Linked DNA regions of Homo sapiens. The protein of the gene in region 1 interacts with the protein of each later gene in a pairwise test. Each region holds a gene or a part of one and is shown on either strand. Other genes may lie near its edges.

Region 1 (3,231 bases):
ACAAAGTCAAAGAGGAGACATTTCACAGATACCTCAGCCAGGCACCATGAGGCCTATGAGGTCAAGAATGGAGAGAAGTTTGAGAAATTAGGAAAAAATATTAGCGTCAGCACACAACTCACTACAAATCAGACAAATCCTAGTGGTCAGATATCTTATGAATGTGGACAATGTGGCAGATATTTCATTCAAATGGCAGACTTCCACCGACATGAGAAATGTCACACTGGTGAAAAGTCTTTTGAATGCAAAGAATGTGGAAAATACTTCAGATATAACTCATTACTTATTCGGCATCAGATAATTCACACTGGAAAGAAACCATTTAAATGTAAAGAATGTGGAAAAGGTTTAAGTTCAGACACAGCCTTGATTCAGCATCAGAGAATCCACACTGGAGAAAAGCCCTATGAATGTAAGGAGTGCGGCAAGGCCTTCAGTAGCAGCTCTGTCTTCCTCCAGCACCAGAGGTTCCACACTGGGGAGAAGCTCTATGAATGTAACGAATGTTGGAAAACTTTCAGTTGCAGCTCAAGTTTCACTGTCCATCAGCGAATGCACACTGGGGAGAAACCTTATGAATGTAAAGAGTGTGGAAAACGATTAAGCTCCAACACAGCCTTGACTCAGCATCAGCGAATTCACACTGGGGAGAAGCCCTTTGAATGTAAGGAGTGTGGGAAGGCATTCAATCAGAAAATAACCCTGATTCAGCACCAGCGAGTTCACACTGGCGAGAAACCTTATGAGTGTAAAGTGTGTGGTAAAACCTTCAGCTGGTGTGGAAGATTCATTCTGCATCAGAAACTACACACTCAGAAGACACCTGTCCAAGCATAGGGCTATCCATAGTTAGGCCCACTGTGCCTCTCCTTTTTTCTCTTTATTTTCATGCTTTTTATCAGTGTCCTCGCTGTCCTTCCTGGTTAGACACTTGGCTTTCATCATGAACTCTTCTTTAAGTTTTTTGAACCTGTTTCCCCAACATGAAGTCTCTTTATGGTTAGAGAAGACCAAAAAACAAACAAACAAACTTAGAAACATAAAAGGAAATGTAAGTTTCCAGATTTAAAGGACATGCTGGGTGCCCAGCAGGATGGATTCAAGGGAAACCTACATTAAGGAAAATTGCTGTGAATTATGAAAACACCAAGTTTGAATAAGAGGATCATGGAGAAAAAATGAGACCCTAAAAAGTTTCTAGAGAGAGAAAACAAAAGATCAGAAATGAAAGCGGGGCCAGGCGCGGTGGCTCGTGCCTGTAATCCCAGCACTTTGGGAGGCTGAGGCGGGTGGATCATGAGGTCAGGAGTTCGAGACCAGCCCGCCCAATATGGTGAAACCCCGTCTCTCCTGAAAAAAAAAAACACAAAAATTAGCCAGGCATGGTGGCGCATGCCTGTAATCCCAGCTACTAGAGAGGCTGAGGCAGGAGAATCACTTGAATCCCTGAGGCAGAGGTTGCAGTGAGCTGAGATCGCACCACTGCACTCCAGCCTGGGCGACAGAGTGAGACTTTGTCTCAAAAACAGTAAAAAATGAAAATGGCATTAGATTTTTCAAGAGCAACCTTCAAAGTCAGATGACAATGTGTATGCCTTCAGACTTCTCATGGAAAATGTTTTCCCCTGCAATTCTATACTCCAAAGTATAAGTATAGAATAAAGGCATTTCAGACCCTTTAAATCTGAAATCTTTATCTCCCATGCATCCTTTCTCATATGTGCAACACTACACAAGGAGTAAACCAGTAAATAAAAAGACAGATATATGGATTCCCTATTGCAGTCCGTACGTCAGAAGTCTCCTAAATTCAAAAACGGGCCCTGTCCATGTGGAGCCAAATGCATCTTGGAAGACATTCCTAGTAGGGTGCAAACTTCCAGAGACCTATCTCAGGTTCAGTGTCCACCCACCCTACTTATTCTTCAGTTTGTCTTCACTAGACAGTTGTACTCTGTGCCTTTGCAAAAGTCAGGATGTATATACTCTTTGAGTCAGGTGCAAGGCACCATTTGTCTTAAATTTATTCTCATTGCTGTTTCAAGTGACCTCAAAGCAGGCAGCATTTTCTTGCAATTCCATCTAGTTATTTTTTATGATCATGGAAGAACCTACCATTATTGCTGTTACCTGTGGAAATGAGGGAAGATGTAAATGTGTTAGGTTTTAGCATCCCCTCTGGCAGCCAGCTTGATTTTGCAGGAAGCAGAGAGTAGTGATTAATAATACAGAGCCAGGCAGACTTTGGTTTGAGTCCAGGTGTTTGTCCTTGGTTAAGTTACAAAAACTGCACTAGTTTCCTTATCTGTAAAATGAGGATGACAGTTAATCTACCTCATAGGTTTGTGTTGGGGATTAAATGCATTATTTGTAGAAGTGTTTCAAACAGTGACTACATATAATAAAAGTATTACCTATTATTGGCCGGGCACAGTGGCTCATGCCTGTAATCCCAGCACTTTGGGAGGCTGAGGTGGGCAGATCACAAGGTCAGGAGATCAAGACCATCCTGCTAACACACTGAAACCCTGTCTCTACTAAAAGTACAAAAAATTAGCTGGGCGTGGGGTGACATGTGCCTGTAGTCCCAGCTACTTGGGAGGCTGAGGCAGGAGCCCAGGGAGGCAGAGGTTGCAGTGAGCCAAGATCATGCCACTGCACTCCAGTCTGGGTGACAGATTGAGACTCCGTCTCAAAAAAAAAAAAAAAAAAATTTTTACCTATTATTATAATCCTATTGGTAAGTTTTGACTTATCAATATACTAGTGAAACAATTATCACAGTTCAAGATAATAATCAGCCACCACCCCAAAACTTTGCTTGTACCCCTCCATAATCCCTTCCTCTTGGCCCTTCACAGGCAACCACTGGTTTGCTTTCTGTCACTTGGATTAATTTTCCTTTATTTTTTGGTCTGGTGTCTTTCACTCAGCATAATTACTTTGAGATTCACCCATGTTGTTGCATATATATCAATAGTTCATTCCTTTTTATTGCTGAGTAGTATTCCACTGTATGGATATGCCATAATTTGTTTATTCATTGACCTGTTGATGGCCATTTGGGTTGTTTTCAGTTTTTGGCTATTACAAATAAAGCTGCTATGGACATTTGTGTCCACATCTTTGTAAGAATATATGCTTTCATTTATCTTGATACAGGAGTGGAATGGCTAGGTCATTAGGTAGATTGGTATAGATTAAACGTTTTAAATTTTTATTATGTTT
Region 2 (7,033 bases), on another chromosome or scaffold:
TTAGAAAAATCTTTGTACCTCTGTGGGATCCTTTGCCCCTTCATGTCCCCCCGAAAACAACCAGAAAACCCCTAACTTGTACTTGCACACTCATGTCAGCTGTCACCTCATACAGGTAGCCTTTAGCCATTCTCTTGTTTGCCTGTGTCACCCCAGCTGGGGGAGACTCCCCCCCACAGCACCCTGTGTTTGCCTTTTTCACCACGCTGTCCATGCTCTATTCTGTTCAAATTTCTTTCTCCCCAACTATGTGATGAGGGCAGGAATTGGCAATTTTATTTCTGTGTCCCTTGCATGATGCCAGGTACATAGTGGGTCTCCAGGCAGTTTCAGCATAGGATAAAAAATAAAACAAAGCCAGGCTATGTGGTTTCCTAAAGCCTTTTTTTGCACTTTCCGTTAGACTCCAGTAAAGAGCTGGAGGAGTTGAGGGCCGCCTTTACTCGTGCCTTGGAGTATCTGAAGCAGGAGGTGGAAGAGCGTAAGTATGCCCCAGCCTGTGGTTTTGCCCAGTTGTATTTCCTTGTCTGTACTATTTCCTGGTTGATGTACCTTTTCAGCCAGCGACTATCTGTCTCCAAGTTCCTTTCTAATTTTACTAATTCTGTTTTTGAAGGTTTCAATGAGAGTGGTGATCCAAGCTGCGTGATTATGCAGAACTGGGCTAGGATTGAGGTAAATGTTTTTGACACATCTAGCACTTTCATCCATCATTGTTTAATAGCATCCTATTAAACTTTAATTAAAATTGAGTCAGAATCCCAGATAATGGCCTAAGCTCTATAAGGATTTATGTTATTACCTAGGTAATGGTCTAGGCTCCACAAGGATTCATGTTATTTACCTAGCTTGACATATATTTGTAAATATGTTGGTGAAAATATTAGCTCCCAGCTAGAAGTTGTGCAGTAAATGTTTAGATGCTAGGTATTCACTCGTTTACTTCTGTCTCTGCCTCTTTGCTTCATTTGTGAGAGCACAGTGAGCGTGTACTGTTTGTCAGCACTGTACTAGGTGCTGTGGGAATAAGACAGATAAAATTCCTTTGCTAGTAAGGCTTCTATCTAATGTAGAAGACAGATGATTTGACAAGTAATTAGAGGATATGATGACTTGAATGTCATTACTGGGTCAGGGACACCAAGGTCAGTAAGACACGGAACCTCCCTTGATCAGCAGGTAGGATTGTAACAATTCTAATCATGTTTTCTCCTCGGAGGGAGCGTCAGATAGAAGAAACTAACATTTGTCAGGTAGTTTTTATATGGGATGCTTATCTTTTAACCATTTTAAAGATGAGAAAACTGAGAATTACAGGTTAAGTAATTTGCCCAAGTCACAGTTTGTAAGTATTAGTAGCAGAGTGTGCATTTAATACTAGATCAGTCTTTTTTTTTTTTTTAACATTGTCTCTCAAACACTTGTAGTTAAGCTTGATAAAAATAAAAAACGTGACTATCTAGTACTGTCGAGTAAGTACCGTGCGCTCCCTCTCTCGGTTCTCAGGAAACATAGGTAGATTAGCTTGTGGCTGCAGAAAGGCTCAAGTGTTTGGGCTGGGTCGTTTACCACTGGAGGGAGGCCTGGGGAATGCCCAGGGACATCTGTAACACTAATAGTTGTGGGGTGCTTTTTATGTGTGTCTGTTGGAAGTGTGTTGTATGATGGGTGTCGACGTCATAAGGTTCAGGTCTCCTAACAGCCTGCTGATGCACTTTAGGCTCGACTGTGCAATAACATGCAGAAAGCTCGGGAACTCTGGGATAGCATCATGACCAGAGGAAATGCCAAGTACGCCAACATGTGGCTAGAGTATTACAACCTGGAAAGGTAACTGATCTCGGGGTGGGGAGGGAGGCAGTGCTTGTCAGCTGTGCACCTGTCTTCACTCCTGGCTGACTCCTACCAGCTTGGACTAGCTCCTTAGAACTGGGCTGTTTTCTTTCATTCTGTCTCTTTCAGTAGTGGGTACATTTTTAATGGGCAGGGCTAGAGAACCAGACATGATATTTTGTGCCTGGAACTCTTATAGCCATGCATTTCTTTTAATTTGTTTTTGTCTTGATTTTTGGGCATGATATTTTATTTGACCTTTTGGAGCTATTTGTTTTTTATATTTGCTTTTATAGAAAAGTAGAAAATACTAAAAAGCTAAGAGAAAAAAAACTCAAATTACTGACCCAGTCATAACCATGACCCATTCTTTGAGACTTTTCTATGTTTAAATTTTTTTGTAATGAAAATGCAATTATAGCATGCATGTGTTACAAGCCTTTAAAACTATTTGAACGAAATAAGATAGGCCTAACAATATTTATAACATGGGGAAAACATAAAGAATGTGACCAACTTTTCAGTCTGTCTTGAACGTTGTTCATTGCATAACATTGCTACATTGCTGGGTTTTCTTTTTTGAAGATTTTTTCCCTATTTAAAAAACACTGTGTGCCCAAATTAGAATATTTACAAAAATATGTGATAGAAAGCGACAGTTTCTTTTCTTTTTTCGGGGGAGGTGGGGAGTCTCACTCTGTTGCCCAGGCTGAAGTGCAGTGGTGCAGTCTCAGCTGCAACCTTGCCTCCTGGGTTCGAGCAATTCTTCTGCCTCAGCCTCTTGAGTAGCTGGGATTACAGGCGTGCACCACCACACCTGGCTAATTTTTGGATTTTTTTTTTTTTTTAGAAGAGGCACAGTTTCACCATGTAGGTCATGCTGACCTCAAGTGATCCTCCTACCTCGGCCTCCCAAAGTGTAGGAATTACAGGCATGAGCCACCATATCCGGCTAAACGTGACAGTTTCTTACAATCCCACCCCAGAGATAACCACTGTTAAAGCTTGTTGAATATCCCCCTAGATCTGCAGTTCACAATTTTTTTGGTCTCAGGATCCATTTTCCACTCTTAAAATTGGAGGATCCCAAAAAACTTTTATGTATGTGAGTTATATCTATTGATATTTATAATTTATAAATTGAGAAATCTAAAAAACATTTTAATTTATTTAAATATAACAAATTATCTAACATTAATATCTTTTTTGAGCAGTGACTGTTTTCCAGACCCCAAAATAATATAGTGAGAAAAGTGGCAGTGTTTTCTATTTTTGCAAATATATTTATTTGCACATTATTCTGACCTAGGAGAAGACAGCTAAATTCTCATGTCTGTTACTGATTCTGTCTGTTGTGATCTGTTGTTTTCATTGAAGAGGTTAGGAAAGAAAGGTATTTTAGAAGCATTTTCAGATAATTGTGGGTATTCTTCTTTCATACATATTATAGCAAAACTTCAGTGTTGCATGTGGAATCTGAAACCATATTGACAGAGTCTGTTACAGTAATACCCATTTGTCTATTTTATCTTTTACTTGATGCCACAATTCTACGACATTATTTGGAAAAATCCCAATTCACTAAATCATGCAGCTCTTCCAATGTTGACATATTTCATCCTATAGTATTAAAAAATCGTATTTGTTCATATCTGTATTGATCTTAGTTGAAAAGTATTTTAAGTAGGAAGCTGTCAGACTTGTGGTGGCAGATACAAGTTTTCCAAAATTCTAATTTTCACTTGAAAGCTTGAATTCTATCACATGCAACAAATAATGTCAGTGGTTTTCCCCAGAGTGGCAGCCTCACTTTGTTAATTTTCAAAAATGTCTGCCAAATACCCAGGTCTGAGTAACTGACCGTGGTTTGTCACTCAAGTTTCCTTTCAAGTAAAAATGGTGTCCTTGAAAAAAATGACTTGATTAGCTTGCAACTCAAACAGTAATATGCTTTTTTTTTTTTTTTTGGCAATAACCATTGTACTTCAGTATGCAGAAGGGCTTTAAGTGTACTTAGTATTTCATCACACAGTGCATTAAAAAGATTTCTACTGCCTTGATTTGTGCTAAGGGCCACCATTACTTGTGCACTGTCTTGAAGATGTCAACACAGTGAAAAAGTCCAGTAATGTCTTGGTATTATTATAAAAGGAGTTTTGACTTTGCAGGGCCCCTGAGAGGCTCTGGGAGATCCTCAGGGGTACGTGGATCTTACTTTGAGAACCAGTGCTCTGAATTTATTCTGAGCATCATAATATGTATATATAATTATGTATATTTAAAATGTTTTAAAAACAAATATGAATACACTGTTGCATAACAGTTATGATTAGCAGAATTGTGTAGCTGTTGTGATTAGCAGTGTACAAAAAGGATCTGTTTGCGACCAGCCTTGCCAACCTGGTGAAAACCTGTCTCTATTAGAAATACAAAAATTAGCTGGGTGTAGTGGTGGGCACCTGTAATCCCAGCTACTCAGGAGGCTGAAGCAGGAGAATTGCCTGAACCTGGGAGACAGAGGTTGGAGTGAGCCGAGATCGTGCTATTGCACTCCCACCTGGGTGACAAGAGCGAGACTCCCTTTCAAAAAAAAAAAAAAGATCTGACTCTGGGTATGAAATTTGACACTACCCTGGATTCATAACTCTCCTGTCAGTAGGACGCCATAGTAAAATTTCCCTGGGGACTGTATCAGGTTACAGAGAGCTGTTGGACTCCCCCGCCATGTGCCGCACATGTGAATGCTGTAAAGGCAGAATGCTGGTTGCAGATCACAATATCAGGTACACTTTCCAGTAGCCCCTACATGGCTGAGGGAGAGAGTGCTTCAGGGAAATACTTCGTAGGTGACTGTAGAGACTCTGGAAGGAGAAAGCATCATGGATAGATCTGAAAGCTAAGGTCTTCTCAGAAGCTAGAGTTACTGAAGAGTGAGTTTCTACCTGGGAGAAGACGGCCTCTCCCTTCGAGTGCCTTCCACTTTGTGTCCTGGTGGCAGCAACTTTTTGTTTTCTGCCTTAGAGCTCATGGTGACACCCAGCACTGCCGGAAGGCTCTGCACCGGGCCGTCCAGTGCACCAGTGACTACCCAGAGCACGTCTGCGAAGTGTTACTCACCATGGAGAGGACAGAAGGTGGGACCCCCAGCTCTCTTCTGGCTTGGAGCCTAACCCATTTGCTGTTTGGTCTCAAGTAGGAGCATCTGGTTACAGTCTGGGGACAGACTGTGTTTATGCTGCCACCTTAGGTGGTGCCCTATGATTAGACTGTCACAAGTGTCCTGAAAATGAGTCCTCCTGCAGCTCTTCTCAAATTCTGCAGCTACAAGGAGGACTCTGTGATGTCACTGTAGCACAGGGTTCTAATTCTCTGTGGGGGGGACTGTGCGTTATACAATGTTTAGGGGCATCCCTGGCTTCTAGCCCTGAAATGCCAGTAGCAGCTTCACCACCACAACCAAACATGACAACCAGAAATGTCTCTTAACATTGCCAAATGTCTCTTGATGGGCAGGATCCCTCCTTTGAGAGTCACTGTGCTCTAGTACAACATCTATCCAACAAAGGAGCTTGGAGAGGCAAATGGCTCAATGTGTCCTTTGCATCCCTTGTTAAATTTCAGAGCCTTCAGTGTTAGCTAGAACCAATAGAAAAATAATGTGAACTTATCTGTGGGTATTGGTCTGGATTTTGGGTATGGACCCCTCAGAACTGGCTTGCAAAGACCACCAAAAAATAAGAAATAAATGCCTCAACATTTGAGTAGCTCTTAAAATTCTTCAGTCTTAATATAAATGTACTTTTGCATTAGAACGTTCGTTTTCATATTCTTTGCCATTTAGAGCCCTTAATAGATCATATTCTGGTTTTCAAGTCTCTCCTGAAAGGAGAGGGACATTTTAAACCCACTTAGAAGGACTATTTGAATTCTGAACTTCAAGCCTACAGGGATTACATTTTCTTATTGTTTGATGGGAGAGATCTCTTCTGGAGGTACAGAGAAATTAAGAAAAATTTATGTGATTGTATCCTTCAAAATCCTAAAGAGTGAAAGTTTTGCTTCTCTTTCTTTCAAGGTTCTTTAGAAGATTGGGATATAGCTGTTCAGAAAACTGAAACCCGATTAGCTCGTGTCAATGAGCAGAGAATGAAGGTAATGACAATGTTTGAAGTCTTTGGCACCTCTGGTAGCTATTTTGGCTCAGTTTGGTATGGATGTTTCTTGTCAAGATGTTTTACATTTTCCTAAGTGTCTTTTACTCAGTATTAATTATAAAATATTTAGATCAATGCTTAAACCTGTCTTGTGTCATTTTTACATTGTTCTAAAACATCAGCCCCAATATTAAGTACTTGTTTCATTTAGTGAGGGAATTTTGGCTCTAAAATTTACGAGAATTGATGAAAAAGAATAAAGAAGAGCCTCACTTAGCCTAGTGAGTGGAACATGAACACCCCAACTTATTTAGGGCTTCAGTTTTATGGATTTTTTTTTTTTTGAGACGGAGTCTCGCTCTGTTGCCCAGGCTGGAGTGCAGTGGCATGATCTCGGCTCACTGCAAGCTCTGCCTCCCGGGTTCACGCCATTCTTCTGCCTCAGCTTCTCGAGTAGCTGGGACTACAGGTGCCCGCTACCACACCTAGCTAATTTTTTGTATTTTTTTAGTAGAGATGGGGTTTCACCATGTTAGCTAGGATGGTCTCGATCTCCTGACCTCGTGATCCACCCATCTCGGCCTCCCAAAGTGCTGGGATTACAGGCGTGAGCCACCGCGCCCGGCCAGTTTTATGGATTTTTTTGCCTTCCTTTTGGTGAGTAATGATTAGGGTGAGGAAATTGCTAATGTAACAGAGACATCAGATCCAGAATTCCAACGAACCTGAATGAGCCCTGGTGTGGAACAGCCGTGAGCCTGTCCACGTTTTTCTCCTGATCTCTGCTTTTCATTAGTAATGAATTTCCACTCCTTCTCCCCTTTCATGACAAATCAGTACAGTGAATGTAATTGCCACATCCAGCGATGCATCATCTTCCCACTTTTCTAGGCTGCAGAGAAGGAAGCAGCCCTTGTGCAGCAAGAAGAAGAAAAGGCTGAACAACGGAAAAGAGCTCGGGCTGAGAAGAAAGCGTTAAAAAAGAAGAAAAAGATCAGAGGCCCAGAGAAGCGCGGAGCAGATGAGGATGATGAGAAAGAGTGGGG
Region 3 (7,605 bases), on another chromosome or scaffold:
GCTACAAAATCAGGGTAGGGGAAGAAACTGGACATCAACAAAAGGAGGCAAGAGCACACAAAATAGGTTAAAAGGATGCCACATATGAAGTCATGAAATATGACTGACTCCTTAGCACGCTGAAGGCAAATGCACAAGTCCTAACTTAGGTCCCCTGAGTCAGAATCCTCAGGAGTAGATGCTGGGACTCTGTATGCTTAACCAACATCAAATCATTATGATTCACAATAAAGCTTGAGAACTCTGACTTAGTTGAATTAATTTTTTTCTTTTTCTTTTTTTTTTTTTTTAGAGACAGAGTCTCCCTCTGTCACCCAGGCTGGAGTGCAGTGGCACAACCGTAGCTCACTATAGCCTCCAACTCCTAGGCTCAAACGATCCTCTTGCCTCAGCCTCCTGAGTAGCTGGGACCACAGGCATGTGCCACCATGCCTGGCTAATTTTTTTTTTTTGTAGAGATGGAGTCTCACCATGTTGCCCCGGCTGGTCTCAAACTCCTGGGCTCAAGCAATTCTTCCACCTCAGCCTCCCAAAGTGCTGGGATTAAAGGCATCAGCCTCTGTGTCCAGCCCCTAAATTAATTTTTAAAATACCTGAAATCCTCTAAAGTAGACCAAATAAACAGATTCCAAAATTGTATCAAGAGTTCCTCAAGAGGTCTTCTAAAATTGATAAAAATGAATTTAAACTTTTTTAATGAAATGATAAAAATGATTTACTCATTTGATGAATCAGCTTTAAGTAGAAAGTTTTGTATTCAAATGGGCAGCCTGCTCTTCCCACCCTGCTCCACTCTCTCGACTCCCCTGTCTTCCCACCCTACTCCACTCTCTCCACTCCCCTCTCTTAGCCATGGGGCCCAGCCATCCTGGGCCACCCAGAGGCCTCGGTGAGACCCACAGGAGTAATAGGCAAAGGCAAGTGTGTGCAGAGCTTGCAGCCACAGGTAGGGCTGGAGTTGGGACCAGAGTCTTCAGAGCTTAATTTGGGGCTGAGGTGAGGCCTTAGATGAAGCCAGGGCCAGGGTCATTTTAGAGCCAAGGCCCAGCCTGGGACACTCAGCCTCAGCTCCTGGGTCTGTGGACAGATGGGCAAGACCCCTCCCAGTGCCTCAGGGAAGCTTCCCAGCCTAGGCAGCAAATTCTACAGGCACTCCCTCAGAGCTGGCCTGGAGCTCACACCTGTCTGCCCAGGCCTGGGGCCAGCAGGCCAGAGTGAGTGCAGCCTGGGAGCAAGGAAATGATGGAGTCTGAGGAAGGCATGAGGCTAGAACCACCTTACCTGGTTCAGTGAGGTCCCCCATGGCAGCCATCACTGGCCCCTTCTGCTCCTTGGGGATCATCCTGTGGAGGAGAGACCCCCATAAATGGACCAGGCTGCCTCCATTTCTCCCCAGACCTCCTTCCAGTCTCTGGTTCACCCTGCCCCAGTCCTGAACAGCTTTAGGCCAGCCCCAAATCACAAGCAAGGGATGTCTGAGCTGGAAGGGACTTCAGGGTCTCCGTGCAGAGGAGACTGAGGCCCAGGGAACGAGAGGGAGGTGCTCAAGTTTGCACGAATCTATTTTCATGTTGCTAGGGAAGCACTGTCTCTTCAGGGGTGGTTTCTAGGGCCTTTTCCCAGCTCTGGCATCCTGATCAGAGGGAGAGTAGGTGCCAGGGGCATCCGGGTGGGGCAGGCAAAGGTCTCAGGCACTACTGTCATCGGTTGACCCAGGAGAGTCCTAGTCCAAGGCTGAAAGAAGTTGGAGGTTTAAGTTAGGGGAAGGGGGAGGATGGACTAGGTTGGGGTTACACTGGGGTCTGCAAGGCTGGTGAGCCCCTTTCATCCTTGGCACTTGGCCCTGACGCTTGAGGGCACAGGCTGGTCCAACCAAGCAGAGAGAACCATCCCCCGTCCTCCCCATCTCCCCGCTACTGGGCTAACTTCCGTGGTGTTCTCTTCTCCCTCGTCCCTTCTCTTCCTCCTGTTCCATCCCCCTATTTGTATCTCATGGCACTTTCAAAGAATCTTGGAAGAGATTTGCAAATAAAATGAGGTCCAGAGCCCTTAACTTGCCCAGGTACCTTAACTTGCCCTCTGGAGAAGAGGCAGAGCCCTTGAGCTCCTCGACTGACCACCCACCTGGGTACCCTTCTCCTTTGCCTCCAGGTTTTCCTATACTCCTTCCTTTAGAAAACAATCTGCCTTCATCTGTATCCCCAACACCGACAAGGGGCCCTGGGAGTCAGTGGGCACTGCATTGTGCAACTGGAGTCTAGTGGGTGTCCCTGGCTTTCTCTGTAACTGCGAACAAGTAGCTTTCCAGCTCTGCACCTCAGTTCCCCCATCTGTAACAGTAGGGGGTTAGGCTAAATCACAGAGATCCATGGATGGGCTTTAGGGTGTTCACAAACCCCCTAAAACTATACGTAAACATGAGTGTGTCTACATGCATTTGGGGTGAGGGTCATGGGATGATTGAGAATGCCTCGATCACAACCGTTTAGGATTCCACAGTCCACAGATCTGTTTCTTGATAAACACTCCCTTTACAGAAATTCACAGATGCTGGGAAGGGTCTCTCATTTTACAGAGAAGCTGCTTCCCTCTACTGCCTAAAAATCCCAAAGTCCTGAGCAGAGCCATTACCTATTCCCCACCTTTAATCCTAGCCACACCCTCCCCATTTAATGCAGGGTAACCTAGAGCTTAGAGTTCCTCTCCTCCCAAACCAGGATCGAGGCTTGCATGGGGCCCCAAACTCCCTAGATCCACTGCAGGGCCCTTCCTCTCCGGGGGAAGGAGCTCTGGGGATTGGCTCACCTCCTCTGCCCACTCCCCTGAGTTCCCCAAGCTCCCCTAGGATGCTGGTACCTGAGAGGATGGGACCACAATAGGCAGGAGGGAATCTTAGACCCTCAAGATTAACACCTCTGTCGGGAAGCTGAGAGTTGCGTGGCGTCCCTGTAGGCAGTCAGCGGTCAGCAGTCAGTAGGCAGCGAGCAGGGTGTCCCCTGCAGCCAGCTCTGGCTTCAGCTGATGAGAATCATTCCTGCCTTGCCATGGGTCACAGCCTTATTTCGGGCTGCAATAGGAGCTGGAGCCAGAGGCTAAAAGCACCAGACCCTAGGGAAGACAGGTGCCCTGGCAACAGGCCTGTGCAGACAGAGGGCTTGCACCCACGTGTACACACACACTCACATATGCACACACCAAAGTCACCTGGAAATGTTGAGGGTCAGCTGCTGGTAGCTTCCGCTTGTTAACTGTTATATCCTTAGTGCCAAGAATGGTGCTTGATAGGAACTCAGCAGATATTTGTCGAAGGAAGGAATGGATGGATAGATAGATGGATGAATGAATTGCTCCTCAATATCTTTGCTTGACTTATCCTTTTCTTCCTTCCTTTCTTCTCTCCTGCCTTTCTTCTTCTGCCTCCTTCCTGCCTGCCTTCTTTTCTCCCCTCCTCCCTCCCTCCCTCCCTCCCTCTACCTTCTCACATTCCCTGAGCCTCTCTCTAAGGACTGAAAATAAATAAGGCAGGGCTCTGTCTTCAAGGAGCTCAGCCAGGTCAGATTCAGACGGGTAAACAAGCTTTGGGGAAGGCTCTGGGAGAGCCCAGGGGAGGGAGTTACCAGCTCAGCCTGGGGTGGGGGGTGAGAAGGCTTCCCAGAGGAGGACACACTGGAGTTGGGCCTTGAAGGATGAGTGGGAGTTCACTGGGCAGAGAAGGGGCATGGCAGGCAGTGGACATGTCACCTACAAAGATGGGTAGGGGGTTGGCAAGTAGAGCCGGAGCTGGGGGCAGTGCTGAGAGATTAGCCCAGACAGTGGGGGCAGCGGCCAGATCCCAGCAGGCTTTCAAAAGGAAACTGTGTTTATAAAGGGTTGCTGACAAGATTAAAGTGGTGAAATGGAGTGATCGGATTGGCATTTTCCAAAGATATCTTTGCTGCCATGTGGGAAATGGGTTGGAGGGGGCCAGACTGGAGGCAGGAGGACCTGACTGTCACCAGGGGTGGCTGGATCAGGGCAGTGACAAGGAGATGGAGAGGAGAGGGAGTTGAGGGTTATTTGAAGAACCCTTGGGTCTTGGTGAGGAACTGGATGTGGAAGGTGAGGAAAGGGAGTCCCACTCCCCTGTTTCATGCTTGGGTGACTGGAAGGGGAGGAGCAGGAGGGGTGGGGGCAGACACTGAGGTCAGTTTTGGATGAACTTTGAGGTGTCGGGGGACTGGGATGAGATCACCAGTAGGCAATGGGACACTGTGCTGCAGTGAGGCCCCAGCCGAAGATAAAGATTGGGTCCAAGGCACACACTCCTGGGGAAGGGTGGGCCTAGCAAGGATGGGCTGGGTGCAGGGTGGGGACCACCGGTGTCTGTGTGCTGGCAGACTATCCTGGGGTGTATTTCTGACACCTCTCAAATCAGAAGCCTAGATTCTGCTGTCCACCACCCTGACCTTAGCTTCCTGGCCCTCGGTGGGCCTGAGCTTCTAGAGAGGAAGAGTGAGGTGTGTTCCCAGGGCAAGCTTAGCCTCACCTGGGAGCAGGATCACAATCCCCTTCTCTGGCCAAAGGACACTCCTGCCAGGAGAGGATGCCTCATGGCCCGAGTCCTTGCCTCACTGGGGCTGCCTGGCTCAGACGGGACCTCTTACAGTGGCGCCTTTCCTGCCCTGGCACCCCCACCTGCCATGAGGAAACAGCCTCAGAGCACAGAGCCCTGACCCAGCTTGGCCCTGCCCACTCTGGTGATAGTGCTCTGTGGTCAGGGCCTGGACAATACCACCCTGAGACATTACCTAGACCCACTCTCCCCATTATACGGATGGGGAAGCTGAGGCCTAGAGAAGGAGTGGGCTCACCCAGGGTCACCCCGCTCGTCCATGACAGGACCAGGACTGCAGTCCAGGTACTTCTATGGCCTCAAGTTGTCCGTTGTTCCCATCTCTCCCCATGGCTGCTTCTTCCCAAGCTCCCATCCCATATGTCTCAAATATTCCCAGCCACCCAGAGTCCCATGGACTGCTCCATGCTTGGGGAGAAGGGAAGGACATCAGACACAGCTGAAAATGACACAGGAGGCAGAAGAATGCAGGAAGCATTTATTGAGGGCCAGAGCTGCATTCTACAAGAGGCAAGAGGCAGGACACAGGCAATCTCTAGTGGGTTAGAGGAGAGGTTGGGGAGAGGGCAGTGACAATGAGAGAACAGCCAGGCGCTGGCTTGGGAACTGCCGGTTTCTCAAGGCTGCCTCCTGCTAGTCCTCTGGGAAATGCAGGTAGAAATGGATCCTCTATGCTACTGCCTCAGCCAGAGGCCTGATGGTGTCCCTTCCCTGGGAGGGGCCCTTAGCCCCAGTCTCCTGTGCTACAAGGGACCCAGCAGCAGGTAGGGGCTTTGGTAAATATAGTCACTCATCATTAACTGAGTAAGAGCACCTTCTCATCTTCACAGCAGCAGGAGCATTCCTGAGGCCCAAGGAGCCCTCTAAGGTCACTCTTTCATTCCAAAGCACCCTGTCCCAACCCTATCTTCCATACTGACCTTAACTCCCTCCAGCCTCACTTGGGGGTTCCAGATCTAACATCACCCCGGTAAGTCCCAAACCCAAACTGTCCCTCACCTTTAGCAACATCCTGGTATCCTTTCACCTACATACGTTTGATCCTCAGCCAATTCCATACCCCCAGCTGATCCTGAAGCTAATATTCTGAACCTCTAGAAGGCTCTACCAGCCAACTCTGGAAACTACAGAACTCAGCCATATTCCTCCCTGAGTCCCCCCTGGGGACCTGAATCACAGCCACCAAGGTTTAGGGAACCAGTGAGGGCCTGCAGCCAGGCTCCCCCAGGTCACTGGGCACCAGGCACTAGCTAGGTCAGAGTGCACTGGGGAAGGGATGGGGCAGGATAATGTCTACTTTTCTGGGCACGATATGGACACTGGGACTGAGGTCTGACACTGAAGAAGGGGACATTTCCAAGGGGACCAGAAATACAGGCAGACCCTAACTTAACACCCTGCTCACGTACCCAAGCTCATCGGCCCCTAAATTCAAGCCCAACTAGCCCACCACCACCACCCACCCCCGACTTCCTAATATCATGGAATGCATTTCAAGACTGGAAGAGCCCTCAGGGGTCATCTGAGCCAATCCTGTCCCCTGCTAGAATCTCCTCTATGCATCCTGGCCATGCTTTTCATATTTCCCGTAACAAGTAACTCTTTGTCTCTCTCTTTCCCAATAAGCAACCCCAAACTGAGGGCAATCAGGTAAAGTCACATGGTAGCTCTGTATCTCTTCTCTCCCCAGTTCAGCTTTGAGCCCAGAACCTGCCATGAATGGGCCCAGAAGGAACAGATGAGCTGGAGGCCCAAGTCCTGGGCCTAAGGGAAATCACTGCCTTATAATTCTCTTATGGCTGCAGATAAGATGTCCTGGACAGTCTGAACTGGGATGGAGAAAGTAGCATGACAGGGACCCGGGGAGAATTTTCCTGCCTCTTCCCTCCAGAGGGGATAGTGGGACACCTTGAGCTGGCCTGGGAGACCTCTCTAAAGGTCATTGTGATAAAAATAGAGCTTGTCTGGGAAGGGATGGAAAACAGCTGCTCCTGCCTGGGACTTGGTGCCAGGGAGCCGGATGGTCAGGCCAGTGCCTGGACATGCGACACAGGCCTAGGACCTTCTGAACACACCCCGCTTGCCAGACTCCAGACAGCAGAGCCAGGAGGGGAGGGACGAGTATGGAACCCTGAAGGTAGCAAGTCCAGGGGTCCATATACACACTGCCCCGCCTCATCCAAGGCACTAACTAGTGTGTGTGTGTGTGTGTGTGTGTGTGTGTGTGTGTGTGTGTGTGAGAGAGAGAGAGAGAGAAAGAGAGAGTGTGTGTGCATCGGTGTGTGTACTGATGGGAAGGGGAATTTTGACGTTTGTGGATTGCCTTGGCCAAAGCCACCATTAAACAGATGGGAAAGCTGAGGGTCAAACAAGGAAGGGTCTTACCCAGGGTCACACAACAGCTGAATGAGAGCAAGGGCTAGAACTCAAGCTTGCGTCCCTAACCCATCCCCAACCCCAGAGCTCTCCTCTGCTGACCCCTCATCTCTGGGGCTGCCCAAAGAGGCCAGACCCTTTGGGTCCCCCAGGTCTAATGAGCCTTCTTCTGGCTCTGCCCTCCCGGGGTGGGGTCGGGGGTGGGGCTCTAGGTGGTGCAGGAGGCCTCGGCGGGGAGGCTGCCACGCTTGAGCCGAAGGCTGCCATTCCACCCGCGGGGACAGATATTGTAGCCCAGGATGCCTGGAGACTTAGCCCCGGAGTCCTCGGAGTCGAGGGACACGTCGGAGTCCGTGGGCGAGCGGCGGTAGAGGAAGGGCCTGGGAGGCGCGGGCAGCGGGCTCCGGGGACTGGTGCAGGACGAAGGACCGGCGGGCAACGGGCTCCGCGGGATGGGCGCGAAGGCTGCCCCCGGCACAGCAGCCGAGCCGGGGCGGGCGGGCTGTGGCGAGCGCATGCGCGGGGGCGGGGGCGGGGGCGGGGGCGGGGGCGGTGGCGCCCTCGGCGGGGAGAAGGGCCGCGGGTTCTCGGCGCCCGCCGACCGCGGGGAGGCGCTC
Region 4 (7,888 bases), on another chromosome or scaffold:
AAATTCCATCTCAAAAACAAAACAAAATGAAAACAGCAAGGTCCACTCCTTAGAGGCCTTTGTGAGCCACTACAGACTCAGGACTTCAGCCTAAGGGACATCAAAAGGTTTTAGGCAAGGGAGTGACAATCAGATGTGCATTTTAGACAAATACAACTAATCAATCAACAATAGTTACAGAGCACCAATTGGAGCAAGGCAGTATAGTAGGCTTGAGAACAATACACAGATGGGAGTTTGGACTCTCATTGAGCCTTCAAGGACTTTAGAAATGTTAAGAGTTTAAGGCAGTATAAATGCATCTGTTTCCTAAGGGAAAGATGGGTTGTGGTAATCTGGAAAGGAATCTTTGGGCTTTTAAAAAAGTGGTATGGGCAAGGTGTGGCGGCTCACGCATGTAATCCTAGCACTTTGGGAGAACGAGTTGGGCAGATCACATGAGGTCAGGAGTTGAAACCAGCCTGGCCAACATGGTGAAACCCGTCTCTACAAAAAATGCAAAAAAGTTAGGCAGCCGAGGGTGCAGGCACCGGTAATCCCAGCTACTCCGGAGGCTGAGGCAGGAGAATCGCTTGAACCCGGAGGCAGAAGTTGCAGTGAGCAGAGATCACGCCACTGCACTCCAGCCTGGGCAACAGAGTGAGACTGCATCTCAAAAAAATAACGTAACATAACATAACATAGAAGTGGTATGTTTCAGATGGGAGAGAGGCCACATGCATCCTGAGCCATCTGAAAGAGAAAGTGGTTGAAAATAAATCTGGAAAGGCAAATTTGGGATATATGTGGAAGGCTTCAAATGTCTAGCTAAGGAGTTTGAAATTTTTCCATATAGGAGATGTAGGGCCATAGACCATTTTTAAGCAAAATGGCTTGCTCAGGCGACAGCATGATGGATAAATCAGTGGGAGAAATGACTGTACTTATCAAAGACACTTAAGAACCTTGCACAGTGCTCCAGGTGTTGCTGCTGTAAAAGTCAGCAGTAGGGACCAGGGGAACAGATTTAGCAGTTATTATGAAAGAAAACCCAAGTAGAGTTGAAATGACTGCCTGAATATTTGAGGGGGATAATAGCGTAGGATCAAGAACGACAGAACATAGCTGAGGTAGTATGAAATAAGTGGACTATAAATTGGAAATTATAAATTTCACTATTACATGCACAATTTCTCTATATTATCATACAACAGTGCCTCTCAAAGAGTGGTAGGCAGACCAGAATTCATCTATGACCTATTTGTTAACCAATCTGTACAGAAAATGACAGTAAGCATTTAGAAACTTCCATTATCATTGAATAATTTTGTCTATTGAATTTAATTAAAAATTTGAACTTATATTGTGTTTGTCTTTTTTAATTCCATTTTTCTAGTAATTCTTTTTATAGTATTTTATCAAAGCATAAATCTGTCAAAGATTAAAAATTTTTAAAAACAAGAACTGTCCTTTACCACAAATAGTTTGAAAAACACTGTCAGAGTATTTAGGTTGCCCCCCAGATCTAAGTAGATTACCTCTATAAACAAACATTCAAAAATATTAAAAAATAAACACAAGTTTGAATATGGACTGAATATTATAGATTATGTATTTACGGTTTTCTTAGGTATAATAATACCACAATAATTATGTAGGAGAATGATACTTTTAGAAGCTATATGCTTATGTATTTACGGGTAAATTATCATGTCTAACTTACTGAATGGGGGATAGCAAAATGAAAAAACACACAGCAGGCATCCCATACACACGGCTAAAGTAAATATGGTCAAATATTAAGAACAGCTGAATTTAAGGGGTGGGTATACAGACAACAATCAATACTGCACTTTCAACTTTTCAAAACATAATGTTGAAAAAATGTTTAAATAAATAGGTCATAAAAACCAAGTCCTCCATACCCCAAAGTCACCAGGTCAGTATTCTCCGGAATGACTTCTGGATCCTCACCGTCCTCAAGGCATTTCAGTTTATCAAGGCTAAAACAAAAAGGAAAAGCAATACTTTAAGGTCGACTCTGCATCTGGTTCACAGCGAGTTAGGGTTGTTTTCCTAAATACATTACTGAATTACGAAGTCAGATAAAATCCAGCAGGCGGCTCAGAGAGGCCAGAACTTAAGACAACGATTTCTGTGATTATATTTTATAATGAAAAGGCCGATGAAGGCAGCCAGTACTGTTAAATGGAGAAAGAGATTAAAGTTATTTTTATATTTTCATCCCCAAATAAGGCACTTTTAAGAAATATTTCAGTAACAGAATACCCGGAAGGTCCCCAAAAGAAACCAGTTAGTCGGGGTTTTAACACTCCTCTGATGAAGTCTCCCGCAGCTTCACCATTACTCAGGTTCCTCCATTGTCAAAGTGTCTGTCAATGGCAGGTACACGTCGCTGTTGCCCTGATTGCTTTTCTTTATTAACAAGCACTCTTAGAATAAGCAAATGGAAAAACTAGTCTTTGATGCAGCTGTCTTGTCCCTTTGCTCCAACTCGTAGAAACTGTGCATTCGGGTCCCAGGACTTCTCCTGGTGTCCCAGGAAGGCTCCAGCGGGTTGAAAGCTTTAAAGGGTAATACTCCTAGCCCAGGTCTAAACCACAGGCCCTTCTCAGGGATGAGTCCCAGAGGAGCGCACGAGCAAGGCTGCACCCTGTTTGACCCCAAGCTGCAAGAGCCCCTTTGCTCCGCACTCACCCGCACACCGCCCTCAGCTCAGCCGCCGCCTCCAGGCTGCAGTCCAGATCCCTGGCCACCGCGGCATCCTCCCGGTCGGAGTCAGCTGCCTGGCTCCCAGGCAGAGCGGATGCCGGCGGCTCCCTCAGCGACAAGTCCCCGGCCCCGCGCAGACGGCCCCGCCACAGCTCCCCAAAGGCGCCCACATGGAAAGCGCGCGTATTTAGCTCGGGAAGCTCATACTCTGGAAAGTTGCAGCCGCCACTGCCGGAGACTGGGTCCTGCCTGCCACCCACCCCGCTACACGTAGGGCCACCTCGGCTTCCTTCAGCCATGTTCGCCCCACTCCTTCCCCTGCAAAAGCCTGCAGATCAAGGCCTCGCAGAGCGTGATGGAAGTTGTAGTTGCTTGGGGCGCCCGGCCGGCGAGCGGCGAGGCGGCGCGGGCAGGGCATCAGAAACTACATTTCCCGGCAGGCCATGGGCAGGCCCGCCCCAGGGCGCGGCACCGCGAGGCTCTACGTGCAGGGCGCAGCATTGTTCTCCGACCCGGGCGGTGCGGGAACCGTTGCGGCTGTCGGTTAACCGCAGCGGGTGGGGCTGGGTTTCTGGTCCCCGAGTTACGTAGCAACTGTCTCTGCCCGGTAGGGCGGCCTCGCCAGGCGCTTAGGCCCCGTTCCTTGCGGCTTTCGGACTAAGGGGTGCAGGGCTTTTTCTTGACTGGGGTTCAAGGACTGCTCTGCTGCCTGATTGCTTTAGAGCCTAAGAAACAAGGAGGGCGAGGGCCGAGACCAGGGACACGACCAGCCCTCCAGATCTGGTTCTTTCACAAGCTCCGCAGAGGCCCCATGTTGGTGTGCGTGTGCAGTAGTGTTTCAGAGCGTCTGTGTATCACACGCTACATGATTAACCCTAATGTATGTTTTTAATGTTTTTAAAAATTACAACAACCTTTCCGGATAGGGCGTATCACCCCGTGTTGCTGTTGAGGAAGGATTTACCTGCGGGGAAAATAGAAGCAGGATCGGAACTCAGTCTGGCTTCAGATGGAGCTCTCTCCATTTCTCAGAGGCCCTGAAGGATACAGCAGGACATACTATTTATTTATTAGACTGTAATCACATGCCATATAATTCACCCATTTGAAGTGTTCAGTGATTTTTGGTATATTCACAGGCTTGGGCAACCATCACCACTATTTGAGAGCATTTTTACCACTCGAAAGAAGAAACTTGTACTTTTTAGCTATCACCCCTGATCCTCCCAACTCCTCCAGCCCTAGCCAACCAAGAACCTACTTTGTCTCTCTAGATTTAACTAATCTGGACATTTAATATAAACGGAATTATATGGTCTTTTGGTGGCTGGCTTAATGTTTACAAGGTTTGTTACAGGTAGTTAGGCATGAGCAGGGCAGGAGAGGGCTCTTCCCTCACCCACTAGGAATGTGGGGTGATGCTTAGGCATTTATCACATTGCCTCTAAAAGTGATAAATTGGCAGCCGGTGCCAGGGAGAGGCCATTTCCTGATGGCCCACACCTGTTGCACTAAAGTGCTCGTTGAATGCAGGTGACAGGGAGAAGCAACTTCCTGGGCATATGCATTAAGAGACAAAATCGGGGAGTATGACCTTTCAGGGGGACTCTATCGGAAAAGGGAAGAAAGCCTCAGATGGGCACGCATACAACTTCATACATATTGCGCTGTGCTCACTTCCCAAGGGTAAGGAGGGCACTGCGCATGGAGGCAGCCCACCCTAAGGGAAGAATCATGGGAAAGGAGCCAGCCTGTAAAGTCCTAGGATCGAGGTCAATATCACAGTTGACCTCAGTGACAGCTTGGGACTCTTCCGAGCGTGCTTTCCTTTCTTTCCTAAAGGCCTTTTAAATAAGCTTCCACTCCTGCTCTGAAACTTGCCTCAGTCTCTTTTTGTGCCTTATTGCCCCTCGGTCAAATTCTTTCTTCTGAGGAGGCAAGAACTGAAGTTGCTGCAGACCCATACAGATTTGCCCTGGTAACTTGGATACCTGCCACCTGTAACACGTTCATCCATTTTGTAGTATGTGTCAGTACTTCATTCCTTTTTTGGCTGAATAATATTGCATTGTATGTATATGCCACATTTTATTTATCAAAAAGTTTTTACCTTTTGGCGTTGCTATGAACATTCATGTACACATTTTTGTGCAAATACGTTTTCATTTCTCTTGGGCATGTGCCCAGTAGTATACAGTCAGCCCTCCCTATCTGTGGGTTCTGCATCCTCCAATTCAACCAACCACATATCAAAAATTACAGTATTCCCAGGTTGCAGAACCTGAGGATAAGAGGAATTTTCCTATGGGCGGATTCCACAGGGCTGACTGCAAGAAGAGCATCTGTCAATTTTGGAGTCCACAGGGGTCTTCGAAACAGTCCACCCTGCAGATACCAAGGGATTTCTGTATTTATGGAACTCTATTTTCAACTATTTGAGGAACTGCCAGATTTTTTTAAAGTGGCTGTCCCATTTTACTCCCCTCCCCAGCAGGATTCTCCACATCCTTGCCAACACTTATCTGAACTTTTTATTATAACCGTGTCAGTGAGTGTGAAATGGTGTTTCATGACTTTTTATTTGCATCTCCCTAATTATATTGATGGAACACGTTTTCATGTGCTTATTGACCATTTGCATATTTCTTTGGGGAAATGTATATTCAAGTTCTTTACCAATTTTTAAATAAAGTTATTGTGTTTCCATAGGAGCTCTGGTTTTTTTTTTCTTTCTTTTTTTTTTTTTTTTTTTTTGTTTTGAGACAGAGTTTCCCTCTTATTGCCCAGGCTGGAGTGCAATGGTGCGATCTTGGCTCACCGCAACCTCTACCTCCTGGGTTGGAGCGATTCTCCTGTCTCACCCTCCTGAGTAGCTGGGATTACAGGTGCATTCCACCACACCTGACTAATTTTTTTGTATTTTTAGTAGAGATGGGATTTCATCATATTGGTCAGGCTGGTCTAGAACTCCTGACCTCAGGTGATCCGCCCACCTCTGCCTCCCAAAGTGCTGGGATTACAGGCGTGAGCCACTGCGCCCGGCCTTCTGGTTGTTTTGTTGTTGTTTGTTTGTTTGAGATAGTGTCTTGCTTTGTCACCCAGACTGGAGTGCACTGGCACAATCAAGGCTCACCGCAGCGTGTCAGGCCTCTGAGCCCAAGCTTAGCCATTATATCCCCTGTGACCTGCACATATACATCTAGATGGCCTGAAGCAACTGAAGAACCACAAAAGATGACATTCCACCATTGTGATCTGTTCCTGCCCCACCCTAACTGATCAATTGACCGTATGACAATACACCCTCCCCGCCCTTGCGATAACGTACTTTGTAATATTCTCCCTGCCCTTGAGAATGTACGTTGTGAGATCCACCCCCTGCCCACAAAAAAATTGCTCCTAACTCCACCGCTTATCCCAAACGTATAAGAACTAATGATAGGCTGGGTGCCGTGGCTCACGCCTATAATCCCAGCACTTTGGGAGGCCGAGGCAGGAGGATCACAAGATCAGGAGTTCGAGACCAGCCTGGCCAATATGGTGAAACCCCTTCTCTACTAAAAATACAAAAATTAGCTGGGCGTGGTGGCAGGTGCCTGTAGTTCCAGCTACTTGGGAGGCTGAGGCAGGAGAATCGCTTGAACCTGGGAGGCAGAGGTTGCAGTGAGCTGAGATTGCGCCATTGCACTGTAGCCTGGGCGACAAAGTGAGACTCCGTCTCAAAAAAAAAAAAAAGAAAAAACTAATGATAATTCCATACCCTTTGCTGACTCTCTTTTCAGACTCAGCCCGCCTGCACCCAGCTTTATTGCTCACACAAAGCCTGTTTGGTAGTCTCTTCACACTGACGCGTGTGACACAGCGTAGACCTCCCAGGCTCAGGTGATCCTCCCATCTTAATCTCCTGAGTAGCTGGGACTACAGGTACGCTGTCATCACATCCAGTTAATTTTTTTATTTTTTTAGAGAAGAGGTTTCACCATGTTGCCCAGGCTGGTCTTGAACTCCTGGGCTCAAGTTATCCTCCTGCCTTGGCCTCCCAAAGTGCTGGGATTACAGGTATGAGCCACCATGCCCAGCTGGAGCCCTGGTTTTTATCAGTACATTGTTGTAGGAAATATCTATCGTTTTTGTCAGCCTAGTATTGTTTATTAGAGCTGACCTTCCCTACTACTTTTGATCCTCCTGGGGCTGCCAGTCATAGAACCATTCCCAATCTGGCCACAGTGGTTGGTCCAAGGATGATCAAGTGTCTCAAATAGAGCCAATCGGAATCCTCCTGTGGGGTTTTATCTATAAACCAAGAAGCCCTTTATCCATTCTAAGGACCTAATAATGTGTCCTAGACACAGACCGTTCCTGCCAGTGGAAGAGTTAGAAGGAACAGAGGCAAGAGTTTGAACAAGCAAAGGCAGAAAATGGAGAAGATAGAAGTCAAGTGACTTGGAGCTACTGGGGCTGAGGCCATCTGCTCTCCTGTATTTGCCATTATGTAAAGGAGGCAAAATTTTACCTCTACTCTCTTAGGATTTTTCAGCTGGGCCTGAGAATTAAATTGACATAAGATGGAGCAACAGGAGAAAAACATGCAAATTAATTTCATACAAGTGTTATGTGGCATAGGATCCTTCATAAGGAAATGAAGACCCAAAGAAACAGTTACAATTGAACACTTATAAACTGAATTGGATAAAGAGTTAGTGAATTATGAAAATGTGACAAGGCAAAGCATACAAGGATAGGGTAGTTAATTGAGTGGAGAAGTGACTAGAAAGCTAAGAGTTAGTTTAACAAGGTTGGTTTGTACAGATTTCCCTTAGCCTCAACTTCCTGTCCTTGATGATAAGAATGATGTTTTCCTTCTGGGTATAGGGAGGACACCTTTCACATGGGAATTTCATCTCCTGCTTTTAAGAAACAGAAGAAAAGTCAGAGTGAACTCCTTGCACCTGCTGTTTCCCAAGTGATACGGCTCAGATGAGTGGAGGAACACGAGGGTTCTTGGTCCTCGTGCCGGCAACATGGACACACATGGAGTGGTTTTAAGGAGCGGAGAGTTTAATAGGCAAGGAAGGGAGGAGACAGAAGGAAGAAGGTCCCCAGTAGAGACAGGGGGAGGGGGGCTCCAAAGCCAAAAGAGGAGGTCCCCACCTGCCACGGATACCAGCCAGGTATA

What was found.
Region 2: the proteins of ZNF620 (region 1) and SART3 interact in binary tests that used the Homo sapiens proteins (3 or more experiments, as listed by UniProt).
Region 3: the proteins of ZNF620 (region 1) and MYOZ3 interact in binary tests that used the Homo sapiens proteins (3 or more experiments, as listed by UniProt).
Region 4: the proteins of ZNF620 (region 1) and SNAPC3 interact in binary tests that used the Homo sapiens proteins (3 or more experiments, as listed by UniProt).

The regions. Positions count from the first base shown.
Region 1 is NC_000003.12:40,516,024-40,519,254, forward strand, and holds the end of ZNF620 (zinc finger protein 620), read left to right. Parts: coding exon 1-840; 3' UTR 841-2,713; downstream 2,714-3,231. UniProt on the Homo sapiens protein: May be involved in transcriptional regulation.
Region 2 is NC_000012.12:108,530,156-108,537,188, reverse strand, and holds part of SART3 (spliceosome associated factor 3, U4/U6 recycling protein), read left to right. Parts: intron 1-403; coding exon 404-481; intron 482-616; coding exon 617-675; intron 676-1,720; coding exon 1,721-1,830; intron 1,831-4,854; coding exon 4,855-4,967; intron 4,968-5,908; coding exon 5,909-5,985; intron 5,986-6,878; coding exon 6,879-7,033. UniProt on the Homo sapiens protein: U6 snRNP-binding protein that functions as a recycling factor of the splicing machinery. Promotes the initial reassembly of U4 and U6 snRNPs following their ejection from the spliceosome during its maturation.
Region 3 is NC_000005.10:150,656,679-150,664,283, reverse strand, and holds the start of MYOZ3 (myozenin-3), read right to left. Parts: upstream 3,034-7,605; 5' UTR 2,857-3,033; intron 1,344-2,856; 5' UTR 1,343-1,343; coding exon 1,282-1,342; intron 1-1,281. Other genes in the region: SYNPO (synaptopodin), read right to left, coding at 7,197-7,605. UniProt on the Homo sapiens protein: Myozenins may serve as intracellular binding proteins involved in linking Z line proteins such as alpha-actinin, gamma-filamin, TCAP/telethonin, LDB3/ZASP and localizing calcineurin signaling to the sarcomere.
Region 4 is NC_000009.12:15,418,003-15,425,890, reverse strand, and holds the start of SNAPC3 (snRNA-activating protein complex subunit 3), read right to left. Parts: upstream 3,016-7,888; 5' UTR 3,012-3,015; coding exon 2,698-3,011; intron 1,983-2,697; coding exon 1,905-1,982; intron 1-1,904.